Regions from separate parts of the Homo sapiens genome. Here region 1 is linked to region 2. Evidence: fine-mapped expression QTL. A gene starts in region 2. The other region holds a variant in brackets. All regions are shown on one strand. Distances are between the middles of the regions.

The links. PIP is the estimated chance that this variant, and not a neighbour inherited with it, causes the effect.
Region 1: its variant is fine-mapped to the expression of VASH1 in whole blood (TOPMed, PIP above 0.99).

The regions. Positions count from the first base shown.
Region 1 is chr14:76,716,181-76,724,510 of GRCh38, forward strand. The region is part of intron 1 of LOC105370577 (a long non-coding RNA gene); the gene reads right to left. Among named protein-coding and RNA genes, the nearest start is that of VASH1, 41 kb to the right of the region's middle. RefSeq lists an enhancer at 4,320-4,479. The variant G/T (reference allele first, on the strand shown) is at 4,538.
Region 2 is chr14:76,757,540-76,765,869 of GRCh38, forward strand. VASH1 (vasohibin 1) reads left to right here and starts at 3,929. Exons shown (of 7, transcript NM_014909.5): 1 at 3,929-5,591. The coding sequence starts at 5,283. RefSeq lists silencers at 3,896-4,085, 4,186-4,455.

The sequences.
Region 1 (8,330 bases), 41 kb before region 2:
CTGGACATGGGTTGGTGGCTTTCAAACTTTTGAAAGCAGTGGAAACTTTTGTTTTTCTCAAGAGGAAAGCTTGATGATGGAACTCAATTTGGAGTATCTTTATGTCACTGAGAGGAAGTATAATAAACACTCCACTAATCAGACTGCTGGAGGGAGACGGCTCAGCTCTTTTGTGTCTTAAATCTCCAAGCAGACTATCAGTCCCCATGGATTGGATCACTGCCTGCAAGTATTAACTGCTTAATAAATGTCACGTAGGAAAAAATGTGTGCTTCATTGGGAAACTGTGTATCCTTTAGAGCATACCCTTCCAGGTTATCTGAGTGCGATGCTTTAGGGTCTCTGGGCCATTCATTGCCTTTGAGCTATTTTTCAAATCTGTAAATTGTAGATAACTGATAGCAATGTAAATAATTCCTGTTTGCAGGCATGCAAATACATTCTGTCCCGAGGTGGTTCAATTTACTTCCTATTTTCCAAAGGAAAGCCAGTTTCCTTCTATTTGAAATATGTTTCCTTCTATTCGTAAATATATTTCCTTCTATTCGTAAATACACTTCAACATTGCTTTTCTCCATATAAATTTGTGCCTCTTTTGACTTCTCATTTGAACCGGTTGTCACATCTTACCAGCCTTCATTAATGATGCACTAAATACAATTTTAACATGTCCATTTTATGTTTGTAGGAATGTCATGATTTTAGCTTTCTTTGAAAATTGCCTTAGTTAAAAAGTTTATCAATAAAAATGAACATTTTTTTTTTCCGAGTTCTCCCCTGATGTCCAATAGCATTTATACTCACACACAGTTGACTTTAAAAGTATAATGTTATGGAAATGCCTTTAGGAAAGCAACACATGCTCATTGGGAATAAGAAATGAGAGAAAGAGCCACATGGGATACTAGGAGCTAGGCTCCCTTAGGCATAAAAGGGCAAGTCGGGGAGCAGTTACCCCAACTCAAGAGAGAAGCTATTGAGAAGGCTGGTGATAGGAGCTGAGGGCTGAAACAGGCGGAGGCAACCAACCCAGGGCAACCCAGTGTAATCACACCAGACCAATCTGGTTCAACTCTTTTTTTTTTTGAGACAGAGTCTCGCTCTGTTGCCCAGGCTAGAGTGCAGTGGCGCAATCTTGGCTCACTGCAAGCACCGCCTCCCAGGTTCACACCATTCTCCTGCCTCAGCCTCCTGAGTAGCTGGGACTACAGGCACCTGCCACCACACCTGGCTAATTTTTTTTACTTTTAATAGAGACGGGGTTTCACCGTGTTAGCCAGGATGGTCTCGATCTCCTGACTTCGTGATCTGCTCACCTCGGCCTCCCAAAGAGCTGGGATTACAGGCGTGAGCCACCGTGCCCAGCCCTGGTTCAACTTTTATGTAACAAAGTCGTGAGTTGTTTTTTGGTTGCCATGGATCCCCAAGTTGAAAGTCAAGTAACCTGAACATGCCCAGATGAACCAAGTGTGCAACCACAAGTGGAACCTAAGTGCTGGAAGCCGGGAGCAAGGACTGCTTTCAGAGGTGGACTGCACATGGCAGGATCCAGGATCCAATCAGATTGAGCTCTAGTGTCACCCCGTGGCAGGATCCAGTCAGATCATGCCTCCCCAGCATCACCTCATTGCAAGATCCAATCAGATCATGGTTCATTACCCTTCGCCTATAAAACCTGCCCCAGCCCACCAGCTAGGCGACATAGATTTCAGCCTTGCCTCCTGTCTTGCCAGTCAATTCCCAATAAAGGTTTTCAGTGCCATGGTATTGGCTTGTGTGTGCATCAGGCAGTGAGCCCATTGCTTGCTGGGTAATACCAGCAGAAAGAGAACAGAAATGAATATTCCAGCCTCACTCTGCTCCCTGCCTTCATGGGCCAAATCCAGCTGGACCAAGAGGGAAAGGGAGTACACATGTTCATAGGCGTCAGCCTTCTTGGTGGAGGGGACATCACAGTCATTCAAACAGCGAACCAAGACAGCTTGGGATGAGAATCAAACCACTCATAGCTCACTGTCTATATTAACATGACTTTACTATTCCACTGTCCTCATCAAAGTAACTTCACTATTATTCCAGAAAATGCTTGCCCAGGAAGATAAAAGCTGTAAATAACTCTACTGTTCATCCCAGGAACTTCCTGAAGGACACACCATGTCTTCAACAGGAAGCATCAGTTTATAGGTTCAATAGGAAGACAGTTTATACCCCAAGGTTCTTTGAACGCCTCAGCCAGAAATCCTCACTTTGCTGTGTCTACCAATCATGATCTTAGCAACCCCCATCAAGCATGCCACCTCTGCACTGAAAGAGCCACCTTAAACCAGGCCTCAAAGTCTCAATAAAAATCACTTTGCCCTCCCACTTTGGGAAGCTACTGAGGCTTTGTGGAGGGGGTACTCTACCTTACCACGGTGAACAATCAACTCAGCCTTGCCTTCTCCGCAGGTTGCTCTGGTGATATTTAGGAGATGGCATTTGACAGAAGGGAAGCATATTTGGAGATGATTGTGTATGTGAGCCTGAATCATCCAGGCAGGTTTCTTCCCTGCTCCAGTTCAGTGGGACGACTGCATAAATATTCTTTCTTTTTCCTATGTGGATACAAAATATTGAGTTTGGGGGCTGGAAGGAATCCCAGCGATGAACTCATCCCTCCCCTCCTTTATGGATTAGGTCAGTAGAACTTACACAGGGAGGTCAGCCAGGGGGCTGGGATCTGAATTCAAGTCCTGCGGCTCTGAGCCAGGTGGCCTGCATTTATTCATTCTCTTGCTGCCATGTTTCTCTTTTCTTTTCTTTTTTTTTTTTTTTTTTTTTTTTTTTGAGATGGAGTTTCACTCTTGTTGCCCAGGCTGGAGTGCAATGGCATGATCTCCGCTCACTGCAACCTCCACCTCCTGGGTTCAAGTGATTCTCTTGCCTCAGCCTCCTGAGTAGCTGAGATTATAAGCATGTGCCACCACACCCAGCTAATTTTGTATTTTTAGTAGAGACAGGGTTTCTCTATGTTGGTCAAGCTGGTCTCGAACTCCTGACCTCAGGTGATCCACCCGTCTCGGCCTCCCAAAGTGCTGGGATTACAGGCATGAGCCACTGTGCCCAGCTTTTTTTTTTTTTTTTTTGGTTTAACAATTGTTTGCTGTGTACCAGGTATTGTGCCAGGTGACGAGCACTCAGAAGTGGGGCCACGTTTTCGAGATTCTTGCCCCGTTTTTCCTTCCGCCCCTTTAAAGCAGATCCTGGGCTCTGTGCTCCTTTACTGAAGAAAGTGGTGGAAGGAAAGAAAGTCGATAGCAGTCTAAGAACTCCCAGCTTCCAATCCCTAAAGTCTAAACATTTGGGAAGAACAGAGGAGATTACAGGTAAGGACCCAAAATGTAGGAAAGGTTTTTCCTGGGCTGGTGTTGGAGGGGAGAGGATGAGAACAGAGAAGGGATGGGTCTCAGGAGGAGCAACCCAAGAGAGAAGGCCTGCGTGGACAGGACTCGACGGGGCATGGAGGGCTCTGTGACATGAAGCGGCAGAGTGACCCCCATACCTCCCCAGAGCCATGTGGACAAGACTGAGGGCCAGCCCAGGAGTGACCTGTGGAACCAATAACCAGCACCAATGCCCTGGCACCATTACGGTCTCGACATCATTAAGACCCTGAAACTCTAAAACAACCAGTGGAGAGCTGGTGCTGCAGACACTCAAAGAGGCAGACGCACAGAGCCAAGGAGGCTCTTGGATTTCGCCCCAAAACTGGGTCAAGGGGACAGAGTCTCCTCCCTCCCATTCCCGACCAGTGCGCTGGGAGTGGCCACACTAGGCATGGAGCAGCCTGTTTGCCAACACACTCTGGTCATAGGAGAAAAAAGAAAATGCCTCCTGAGTTTGGTTTTAAGGAGCTCCTTAACAAAAGGCAGCCCTGAGCAAAGTGATGCTGGGTGAGGGATGCTGCTTTTGCTTTTAAAATAAGCCACAATCTTCCCAGCAAACAAAGAGTGTCTTCTGAGTAACTCAAAGAATGTTTCTTTTCTCCTGGTACAGGGAGGGCATCTTTCAAATGAAAGTCCGTATCTCCTGTTTTCAGGAAGAAACTAGATTAGAATGCCCTTCTTGCATCTGCTGTTTTTCAAGTGCCTTTAGCTCAAAATAATCCTTATGCCAAAGTGGTATGTTTTGGGGTGGCATATCCTGGCACCTTTCAGCAGGAACAGGGGTGCAGAGAGGGGCCATGTGGAGTAAGCCTGTCCCTGAGGGCCAGGAAGCCCAGGCAGCCTCACTTCCTCTCTCTCTCAGCAGCTGATGTGACCCTGGTCTGACCTTGCAGCTGCTCCTCCTGGCTCCCTGCTGGCTGCAGGCCAGGGCTCAGATTCCAGTCTTTTCCACAGCTCTAGAGGACCAGACTTTCAAAGGAGGGAAGGAAGGGAGGAAGGGGAGGGCAGGAAGAGGTCAGAAAAGAGGATGGAGAATTTAGGAGGGGAGAAAGGGAAGTGAGAGGAGCGCAGGAGGCTGGTGGGGAAGGGAAAATCAGACCGGAGGAGAGGAA[G/T]GAAATGAGTAACTAATTCTGAAATTGCGGCACCTGAGGCCTCAGTCCTTTTGGGCCTTAACTCTTGCCCTGGGGCCTATCACAGGGGGCCCAGGAGCACTGTTTGCTGTGACCATCCTGGGCAACATGGCAAAACCCTGTCTCTACTAAAAATACAAAATATATTCGATTCATGAAGCACCTCAAATTTAGATTTGCAAAGACCTCCAAACAAAACACCTGCATTGTAAGAAGACTGCCTGCTAGGCACAGTGGCTCACACCTGTAATCCTAACACTTTGGGAGGCCGAGGTGGGTGGATCATTTGAGGTCAGGAGTTCGAGACCCACCTGGCTAACATGGTGAAACCCTGTCTCTACTAAAAATACAAAAATTAGCCAGGCGGGGTGGCAAGCGCCTGTAGTCCTAGCTACTCGGGAGGCTGAGGAAGGAGAATCACTTGAACCCAGGAGACAGAGGCTGCAGTGAGTGGAGATTGCATCACTGCACTCCGGCCTGAGCAATAGAGTGAGATTCCGTTGCCAAAAAAAAGATTGCTCAACCTTCAATTTTGAACTTGTCCCCATCCTGGGTCACACCAGCTACACTACACTGAGTCAGTATTTTTCATAAATTTAAAGGCCATGGTGTCCAATTTTATTGCAGTGTTTTCTTTGTATTAAGGAATGAATCTGTTAGTGGCAAACATTTAAAATATATTGCCAACTTTATTTAATTAATTTATTTATTTTTGAGATGGAGTTTTTGCTCTGTTGCCCAGGCTGGAGTGCAGTGGCAAGATCTCAGCTCACTGCAACCTCTGACTCCAGGGTTCAAGCGATTCTTCCGCCTCAGCCTCCCGAGTAGCTGGGATTACAGGCGCCTGCCACCCTACCCAGCTAATTTTTGTATTTTTAGTAGAGACGAGGTCTCACCATGTTGGCCAGGCTAGTCTCAAACTCTTGACCTCAGGTGATCCGCCCACCTTGGCCTCCCAAAGTGCTCGATTACAGGTATGAGGCACCGGGCCGGGCCAAACTGCAAACTTTATAATGCTGTTAGGGTTCTTCTCCTGTATTTTTAATTTATAGGGAGCTTGAAAAACGGGTGTGGCCCAAGTCTCTCTCAGTTGCTGAGATGCCCTGACGGCACCTCCCACAGCCCTGGGCCCCCTGTAGGACCAGTCTCCCCTGGAGGACACCCACAAGAACAGGAAAGCCCCACCAAAACGCTAAGGAGGGAGGCAGAATTGGTGACACTGGGTCCCCAGAGATCCCATGGCTGGTGACACCATAAAAACTCGTTTTCTTCCCTGAGAGATGAAGAGGAGTGGGGGCAGGAGATGATCTACATGCCAACTCTGGGAATATGTTCAGTCCTATCACTGGGCCCCATTTTTGTTGGTGGCCAACGCAACAGTCTTTCCCTGACTCCTTCCCATGAGCTTGCCTTTCATCATAGGGGATGAAAGGCCAAAGATACCTTCCCAGCCTCTTCTGCGCTAGAAGTAGCCTAGTCAATAAGATACAAAAAAAATTCTCCTGGGTTGTTTTTAGAAAATCTTTTCCTCTCTGATAAAAACAGAGGGGCAAGTCCAGGCACAGTGGCTCACGCCTGTAATCCTAGTACTTTGGGAGGCCAAGGTGGGCGGATTGCCTGAGCTCAGGAGTTCAAGACCAGCCTGGGCAACATGGCAAAATCCCGTCTGTACTAAAAATACAAAAAATTACCCAGGCGTGGTGGCGCGTGCCTGTAATCCCAGCTACTCAGGAGGTTGAGGCAGGAGAATCGCTTGAACCTGGGAGGCAGAGGTTGCAGTGAGCTGAGATCACACCACTGCACTTCAGCCTGGGCGACAGGGCAAGACTCTGTCTCAAAAAAAAAAAAAAAAAAAAAAAAAGAGGGGCAAGAGGAGAGCTCCTTTGCCCACCTCCTTGTTTCTAGATTGGGTTGGGCGTGCCGAGTGAAGACAATGTGCTGGCGCTCAGGCAGGGCAGGAAGTGTGCTAAAGCCAAAAGGGTGGAAGGACCTCGCTGAGCTGCTGCACGAACCCCTGAACTGTCTACACCCAGGCTTCTTAATTATGGGCGATGATTAAGTGGCTTTTTGATTTAAGCTACTCTTGCACAGGTGTTCCATGATTTGCAGTCAAAAGCATTTCCAACACCCAGAGCTGTGCTAGGACTTGTAGAGGATACAGAGACTTCCAAGATTTGATTTCTTCCTTCTATTCTAGAAGCTTATATTCAAAGTAGGGAAACTAGACATATGTACAGGTGTTCAACATCCTTAAAAATCAAACAACTTGGAGTATAATCAAATTTTAAACTGAAAGTAACAGCAATTTCACTCTTGAGAACTTTTCCCAAGAATGTATGTTCAGAGATATTTGCTGAATTGCAGCATATAGTAGAGAAAATGTGGACATACCCTAAATATTTAGCAATAGGGATTGAAATTACAGCACATACATAAATGGAATACTATGAAGTCAGTAAAGATGGTGATGTTGATATATACTTAATGATGGGAATTCTATAGACAATACTCAGAAAAAAAAACAGGTTATCAACTGTGTACTATATAAATCCACTCATGCACAAAAACATCTGAGTCTGGTATATGTGAAACTGTCAGCAGTGATTATTGGTATACAGTGGAATCATGATGGATTTTTATTTTCCTTACACTTTTCTGTACTTTTTCCACTTGTTGCAATGAACACATATTGCATTTGTAATAGTTGCACTAACAGCATTTAGAAATGCAACTGAATAGTAAGACTATCTGTGCTAATAGAGTACAGTGAAGAGCTTTTAAAAATCTACCAAAATTCACTGTGCATCAACTATTTGCAAAACAACATGGTATATAGGAAGGGGATGGAGAACATGAAAAATAGATCCACAGTCATACACACAGTCCATGGCTTTGAAGGGTGGCAGAATATGCCATCCCCAAAATATGCCACTTGCCTTGATTATTTTGAACTAAAGGCACTTGCAAAAGGGGTGCTCTGACCTCCCCTTTTCTTCCTAAAAACAGGAGATAAATCTCCCATGTGAAAGGTCCCCTCCCTATACCAGGAGGAAAGAAACATTCTTATCATCAGAGATAGGAAGTTGAGACCAAGAGAAATCTGTACATACAGACCTTGTTAAAATAATTCTTACGTTCTTTTAGTCCTCATGTATATTTTAGTTACTCTTCCACAATTGCCTCTCTTTGTTCAACCTAGTATATAAGCACTTAGGTTTTGCCAGTTCTTTAGATCTTCATTTTCCTTTGGGGGATCCCATGTACATGTCAAAACCTGTGTGCTTTTCTCCTGTTCATCTGCCTATGTCATCTTAATTATCAGTCCCAACCAGTAACCCTAAGATGGTTGAGGTAAAGATTTTCTTCCCCTACAGCTTTAAAGAACCAAGTTTCTACCTGGGCAGCTAAGACACAGACAGGTGACATAGTTCCATCCATTCTTAGGAGCTTAGAATATTTGTTACATATCCTAACCTGCCCAATGATATGATAGATATTGAAATAAAACATCGAGTTTTAAGTATTTGGCTTTTATGAAAAAAAATTGGAACAACAGTTTTACATTATAATTTTATATACAGAGTATTTAAGTCAGGCATTGTGAATAGCTTCTGGGAAATGCTTTCAGACCTTGTAAGTTTTGCCTAGGATTGTTTGCAAAGTCTGATTTAACACCCTGTATATAATAGAGAAACCTAATTCACACCCAAACCTTTTGTATTTCTTAGAGTTACAAATGCAGCAAAGCATCTCTTAATTTCTAGAACCTTTCCAA
Region 2 (8,330 bases):
CTTGAAATATGGCTAGCGTGATTGGAGAAACTGAACTTTTAATTCTATTTAATGTTAATTAAATTCAAATTTAAATAGACACATATGACTTCTGGCTACCATACTGAACTTCTGGCTACCATTGCAGAAATTTCTTTTCTTTTTTTTTTTGAGATGGAGTCTCACCCTATCACCTAGGCTGTGGTGCAGTGATGCAATCTCGGCTCACTGCAACCCCTGCCACTTGAGTTCAAGCAATTCTCCTGCCTCAGCCTCCCCAGTAGCTGGGATTACAGGTGCTTGCCACTGCGCCCAGCTATTTTTTTGTAGTTTTTAGTACAGACAGGATTTTGCCATATTGGCCAGGCTGGTCTTGAACTCCTGACCTCGTGATTCACCCCCCTCAGCCTCCCAAAGTGCTGGGATTACAGGCATGAGCCACTGCGCCTGGCCCATTGCAGAAATTTCTATTGGACAGTTCTGCTCTGTGATTCTTTCTTGGGATTAAACTCCTTTTCTTTTCTTCTTTTACCTCATAAATTATGAACATGAAAACAGCAAAAAGTTGAGTCAGAACATCTACCTTTTATAAACACATCTATACCTGTGTGCCTCCATGCCCCTCTTTTACTAACAGCACCCCATTTACCTTTAGGGCAGTCCTTCTCCCCCAACCACCTGTAGTCTTGGCTAATGAAATTGCCCCATCCTCCTCTAGCCAAGGATCCAAGCTAAGTCAACAGACTCTTCTCTCTGGAAATTTCACTCTAGCTTCTGTGTCACAAGAATAGAAAATGTGTCAGAGCAGATTAATATGAGTGTTGATGCCCTAAGACAACATGCGTTCATTTGCAGACCATTAGTCCAGAGTGTGACGATAACAAATGTGACACATGATATGAGTTAGGCGTCATTATCGTCATCCTTGTCATCATGAAAGTGACTTGTACCCAGCAGCTCAGATGTGCCTGCTCCTGTACTAGGTATGTAATTTGCCTAGCTTCTCTTATGCATCCTTTCTTCATCTGTAAAATGGAAATCATACTCATCCTAACTCTTCCACGGTTTTTGTGAAGACAGCAAAAGGAATAATTGTCATGAGGGCCGGGCGCGGTGGCTCACGCCTGTAAGCCCAGCAATTTGGGAGGCCGAAGCAGACAGATCACTTGAGGTCAGGAGTTGGAGACCAGCCTGGCCAACATGGTGAAACCCCATCTCTACTAAAAATACAAAAATTAGACAGACATGGTGGCAGGCACCTATAATTCCAGCTACTCAGGAAACTGAGGCAGAGAATCACTTGAACCTGGGAGGCAGAGGCTGCAGTGAGCAGAGATCGAGCCACTGCACTCCAGCCTGGGTGACAGACCGAGACTCTGTCTCAGGGGAAAAAAAAAAAAAAGAAAAAAAAGAAAAATAACGGTCACGAAAGCTTTGAGCCAAATAAGGAGTTACCCAAGTGTCTGTTGGAGGAGTTGTTCCCAAGGCATAGGTGTGGGGAGTCATGGGAGGGCTTGATGAAGGACCCAGGATCTGAGACCAATTCAAAAGTTGTGCCATACCAGGTTAAGTCACTTGTTCTCTCTGGGCTTTTGGCTTAGATAAGACTGGGTTATACACATCTCTTTCCAGTTTCACCATTTTCTAATCTATTTGCAAGCCCCCTTGCCTGACACATACCCTCTTCCACTTCTATGCACACATGCCAGAAAATTCTCTAGCCTAGTCCATGCTGACCTTGTACCCAACTCATTTCTTCTTTTCCCAGCTCCTCACCTGATTGGGAAGTTGCTCTGGGTATGCACTCCCACAGCTTCCTGAATAACCCTCTGGCAGAGCACCTTATGGAAATCATGCTTAACTATCTCCTCCACTAGTAGGCCATAAGTCCAACTAGAGCAAAGGCCATGTCCCTCTTGTTCACTACTGCTTCTCCAGTGCCCAGTACAGAGTCAAACACATAGAAGATGTTCTATGAGTACTTACTCTTTGAATGAATACCCTACATCTATTTTATTTGTCATTTCAGAAAACACATGGTATTATCTCATGCTGCGTAACAAGTTAGTCCAAAACTTAGCAGCTTAAAACGAGAATAGTCACTTATCCTCTCTCAATTTCTGTGGGACAGAAAGTCAGACAGGGCACAGCAGGGCTGGTTGTTCTCTGCTCCATGTCTGGGACCTCAACTCTAAGACTTAAAGGCCGAGGGCTGGCAAGACCTGAAGTCTCGGTTTGCCATGATCTGGTGATTGACTCTGGCTGTTGGCTGAGAGCCCAGCAGCAGCTGTCAGCGAGAACACCCTCATGTGGCCTCACCATGTGGCTTGGGCTTCTTCACAACATGGTAGCTGGTTTCTTCTGAGGAACCAAGAAGAAGCTGTCTCCTTTTTATGGCCTGGTCTTAAGAGTCATACAGCTTCACTTTCATCACACTTTATTCATTAGACACCAGTCACCAAGTACATCCCACATTCAGGGGGAAAGGAATTAGATCCCATCTTTTGAAAAGAATGGTCAAGAGCTTGCAAGCCAATTTTAAAACCAGCACCACTTGGCTAACACAAGAAGCAATGTATAGAGTGAAAAACAAGTGTCTGAAGAAGTAAGACTTCTGTTCACATTCTAGCTCTGCCACTTACTAGCTGTGTGAGTTTGGGGAAATTACCCTCTGAGACTTGGTTTATACAATACAGGGTGATAGTTGTTGATCCCTAGTGATTTTTCTACGCTTGGAGTCTTCTTGCCTTAGTGAGTTTAAGAAGATCCAGGCTGAACTAACTTTCTTGGAGTCTTGCAATCCTTCCCATCACTGATAACCCTTGGTTTCTGACCCTGGAGGTAGTAAGAGGTTGCTACGGGAGCACAGGGTACCCAGAAAGTTCAGATACTAGGGACAGCTTTAGAGAACAGATGTGAAACCACTGAGGCCCTGGGGTCTCTCTAAGGCCTTTAACCCAGCCCTTGTGTAGTAACCTCAGCTTGTCAAGAAATGCAACGACCCCACAACTAAGGAATCTGAATCTGCCGGCTAAGGCCAAGGAATCTGCATTCTCCCACAAGACTGTGATTCATGCTAACTACAGGCAGGGGAGAGGGGGAGCATCTTAAAGCACACACTCGGCCGTCTCTTCCTAAAGTTCTTGGCTTCAGCCTAGAGATAGTGCCTTTCCCACCATTTACAACTCTATGGCATGAGGGAGGCGGAGGGTGCGTCCAGTGTCCAACCACGCACCACAGCTGGTTGTACTTTCACCTTCCTCTAGGCCAGCGGACCCTCCCCAAGCATTGCCTCCCACGCCCACGTCGCGGTCCCACCCTGGTCCGCGGGGTCCAGAGCGTCCAAAGCCCGGTCTAGGCAGATGGTCTAGGGGTGAGCTCTGCGCACCCCATTCCCACCAGTGCAGGCAATCGAATAAAACAGGGTGACTTTTAACCCTTTTCGTTTCCAGAGATAGTGACCCCCCGTCTCAATCCCTAGATGTCCTCCTCTAAGAACTGTGCGCGCTGGGAGGGACTCTGCGCTCACTCACTGTGACCACCTCGGCTGGGATATGGGGAAACTGAGGCCTACAGAGGGAAGGGAACTGCTGAACGTCCCAAAGCAACACAGGCACTGAATCCGGTCTAGAATCCCAGTCTTCCAGGCCAGTGCTCTCGGTCCTACCGGCTCAGGGCCCCTGCGAAGAATCTTTTTCAAGAAATTCCCGACCGCAGGAATTCCTTCTGCGCTAGGAATCTCCATGGAGTTTGCGCTCCCTCTGGCACGTTGAAAACGTCCTCCGCAGCTTCGCACCGGCTTCGCGGCGCCCTGACAGCTGGGTGAGGAGGGAGCGAATGCCCACCGGCGTCCTTGGGGTAACTTGGGACAGAGGCACCGCCGCGGGGGGCGGAGGACTGGGCGCGAAGGCGCTGGCCCTTTAAGGGGGGGACGGAGCGCATGCGCGGCGCGGGCCGTAGTCGAGCCTGGTGGGCGGCTGGCTGGCAGGGGACGTGGTCGGCGGCAGCGGGGCCCAGGGGCGGCGGGGCTGCAGCAGCGGCGGCCCCAGCTTCGCCGAGCAGCGATCGGCTGGTGGGCTTCTCGTTGGCGGGCTCCGCGTTGGCGGGCTGCTCCCCAGGCACCAGCGCAGCGCGCGCTCGCCCGGCTTCGTCACTCGCCTCCAGCTACATCCGCCGGCCGAGGCTGCGCGAGCCTCCGGGCTTGCGGTCCCCGCCCCGCGGTCCTTCCTCCACCCTCAGCCAGGGCAGCTGCAGCCCGAGCGAACAGCCACGGAGCATCCTCCGCCCGCCCGGGCCGCGCCACCGCCCATGCTGCAGCCAGTCCCAGGCAGCGACCCCGCGGCCGCAGCCCGCCGCTCAGTGACCTCAGCCTGGCCCCTGCGCGCCGCCCGAGCCGGTCCCGCTGAGCCGCGGGCCCCGTGCCCTGCGATGGCTCGGCTGGTGCAGCGCGGCGCCAGGTGCCAGCCGTCCTCCCGCTGAGACGCGCCCGAGTGGGGACCCGCTGGGCCTCGGGGCTCGCAGCCTTCGCCTCCCCGCCGCGCCCGCTCCCTTTCTGGGGACTCCGCCGCTGTTTCTGGGGACGAGGGGACAGGGGACCCAGACAAAGCCCACTTTGTGCAGGGAGTTGGCCGCAGGCGGGGAATGTGCGCGTCGGCGCGCGCCCCCTCCCCGCTCCCGGCCAGCTGCGAGTCTTGGCTCCCGGACTTGTCTCGTCGCGTCGGAGAAATCGCCCCCCAGCGCCGCTCTCCCGCCCGGGGGTCTTGGTTCCGAGCTCGCGCGGCCGGGAGTCGCCTCGGTCTTCCTTGGGGCGCGCGCAGATGTGAGCGTGCGAGAGTTGTGTAGGGGATTTTGTTCCCTCCGAAACTGAGACCCAGGGCGCCCAGTGGGCACCCGTGCCTTGACTCTGTCCTTTCTGCAGCCGCTGGTCCGAGCTGTCTGGCCTCAGTTTCCCTCCGACTTTTCTCCGCTCTGCCAGCCCTCACTGCTGCCCGTCATTGTTCTCGCAGTTAGATGGGGGTGCTTTGTGACGGCTGCCAAGTTGGGGTGTGTTCTCTTTATTCCGTTTTTCAAACAGAACAAGGCCTCCAAGGCTGACCCCAGACAACCCACCCCCTCGGACCCTAATTCACCTTATTGCACTGATTTTTTTTATCAAGTCGTATTTTATTGTACAGGAGCCACGCCCTGATTTCTTAAAGGCGCCTTGCACTCTGGCCATGTGTTATCTCTGCAGCCGGTGTGTGGGAGGCCTCTTGTGAGCCAGTTGTTTTCCCGCCTCCACCACCCCCCTCGAAGATTTAGGGATGCCAGGGGGGAAGAAGGTGGCTGGGGGTGGCAGCAGCGGTGCCACTCCAACGTCCGCTGCGGCCACCGCCCCCTCTGGGGTCAGGCGTTTGGAGACCAGCGAAGGAACCTCAGCCCAGAGAGATGAGGAGCCAGAAGAGGAAGGGGAAGAGGACCTGCGAGACGGAGGCGTCCCCTTCTTTGTCAACCGGGGTGGGCTACCTGTGGATGAGGCCACCTGGGAAAGGATGTGGAAACACGTGGCCAAGATCCACCCCGATGGAGAGAAGGTGGCGCAACGGATCCGTGGGGCCACAGACCTGCCCAAGGTGAGACACACGGGTCAGGGGGGTGATAGCACAGTCTAGGTTTTAGTGACCTTGGGGCCAAGAGTGAAGCCACACTCTCCTCCCACGGGGCAGGGGACCACTGGCTCGGTAAGATCTTTAAAATGCAGTGATATCATACCTGTCTAGGAGAACTTTCTCTCACTGCCATTCTAGGAGGGAGGCTCACATACATTGTCTCCAGGAGGCCCTCCCCGCTGTCTTTTAAAATGTCCACGTTTTACAGGAGGGGACAGCAGCAGATGGAACTAACAAACACAGTAGGATGGCTTGACGTCTCATTTGCTTGATGACACTTGCCAAGCCAGAGAACTGTGAGCAGACAAATGTAATGAATGACTAAGGAGATGCAGGGCTTCATATGTTGAGAAAATATTTTCGTGCATTATGTCATTGAATTCTCCCAACAGCCTTGTGACGTAAGTACAGTTTGGATTCCCATTTTACAGATGAGAAAGCTGAAAACTCAAGTAGGAACTCAAGATCCCACAGCCAGTAAGTGGCAGAACTGAGATTCAATTTCAGGTCTTCAGGAGAAGGGCGGGGGGTGGTGGTGGAGGGAAGTGTCCAGGTCCTCTTCTCTGTTGGACAGTAGATTCAAGCACATTAGAAGAGGTCTTATGGAGAAGCATAAAATGAAATAATTTTTCTGTGTTGGCTGTAACTCCTCCTCCATGACAGCTATACTTCAGTTGTGTCACCAACGAAAACAGAGGCTGTATCTCATTCATCTTTGTCTTCCCAAGGCCTCCTGTGTGCCTGGCACAGAACAGGCACTAGTGTGTGTGTTTGCTGAATGAAAGGGTATTTGAGAGTTTCTGTGCTGTACGCTGCTATATGGAAATACATGCCAGATATTAAAAAAAAAAAAAACATGATCAAGACTAGGAGGCACTTTGCCAAATGCAGAGGCCTGAAATCTCCAAAAAAGAGCCCTTTGGACTGAGTTCAGAGCCCAGTGCTTAGCCCTGCCTGCCCAGGTTGGAAGGAAGGGGGCTAGGAAGAATGGAAGTTAGTGTGAATTAGACATGAGGACAAGTGGCCCGTTTTGTTTTTACCAAGTTATTGGTACAGCCATCAGAAAGTGTCTTCTGGGAAAAAGAGAATCAAAGGTTGAAGGTTTAAATACTGCCTAATGTTTCCAGGGGAAACAAAATGTAGATTGATTTGGAATGGCCGCATAAATGTGCTCTGCACTGACTTAATATTTATTTAGCTAATCCCCTAGAGTTGGATGTTGTTTCCAGTTTTATTCCTAAAATGAATACTATGGTGAACATTCTAAAATATAAATTTTGGGGTTCATCTCTGATTATTTCCTTGGGAAAAATTCTGAAAGCGAAAGTATTGCGTCAAAGGATATTGACATTGGTAGGGGTCACCTGCTTATCTATATGGCCTCTTCCACCTATTTGAGATGCAGTTTTCTTATCAATAAGATGAGGTTGATTGTGGGGAAGAAATGAGAGACTGTGTGTTAAAGTATTTAACAAACTGTAAAGCCCCAAACCAGTACCTGGTTATTGGATATCAGTTACCTTTTTTTTTTTTTTTTGAGATGGAGTCTCACTCTTTCCACCAGGCTGGAGTGCAGTGGCATGATCTTGGCTCACTGCAGCCTCCACCTCCCTGGTTCAAGTGATTCTCCTGCCTCAGCCTCCTGAGTATCTGGGATTGTAGGCACCTACCACCACACCTGGCTAATTTTTGTATTTTTGGTAGAGATGGGGTTTCATTTTCAACATTTTGGCCAGGCTGGTCTCAAACTCCAGACCTCAGGTAATCCACCCACCTCAGCCTCCCAAAGTGCTGGGATTACAGGCGTGAACCACCACGCCCGGCCAGACATCCATCACCTTTACTTATGTGCTTTATCAAGCGGCAAGACTGGGTTTTGCTCAGATCATTTGTCCCGATGAGGCCAGAGTCACACCCTGCTCCCACGTGAACAAGTCGGGCAGCTCTCCAGCCATCTTGCTTATGTCTAAATCAGGCCATAAAAGAGTGTGAATGGTTCCCTGCAGAACTGCCACCACTCCTGGGAACTAAAAAAGAAATAGTGAGCTCACTAGTAACTGGTCTGTAATGTCATTCTGTCATCTTCAGTCCTCATGTACAGGAAAGACACGGATGAAGGAAGTCTAGGGGTGGGGGCTGTGTTGTGACAGACCCCTAGACTTCCATCGCTAGGGTAGAAGGAATTTTGTGAGAGGTTTGGAAAAATTTGAACCTCCCCCTCTTCAAACCACAGATCTCAGATAAATCGCATGAGTCTGCATGAGGTCCCTCCTCTACCTGGGCTCTGAGTAGAAAGGTACCCTTAGAGTCTGGGAGTGCAGTGGAGTCCAGGAGGCCTTGGAGAGAAGCAGCGTGGGTTGGGTGCCTGGGTGCCAGGGTGCCAGTGGCAGGGTGGGCTGACCCCGCCCTTACCATCCCTAGGGGCCATGCCACTGGAGCTGGCACAGGGTCATTCCCTACAGCGGCCACACAGTGTGGGGCTCAAGAAGTGTTTTGTTGGGAAAATTGGGAGATTTCTCACATAAAGATCCAGAGTTTTGGCATCTTTTCAGAAAATAAGAAGACTTGGGAACACATGGGAATCTGCAGTCCCACGTGGCAGCTGTCAGCTGGGGCTGGGGAGTGAGTCCTACTCCCCCATCTTGCCACTGTCTCCACCACTCACCTACCAGGCCTGCCTGCCCCGTGTATGTTACTTGCCCG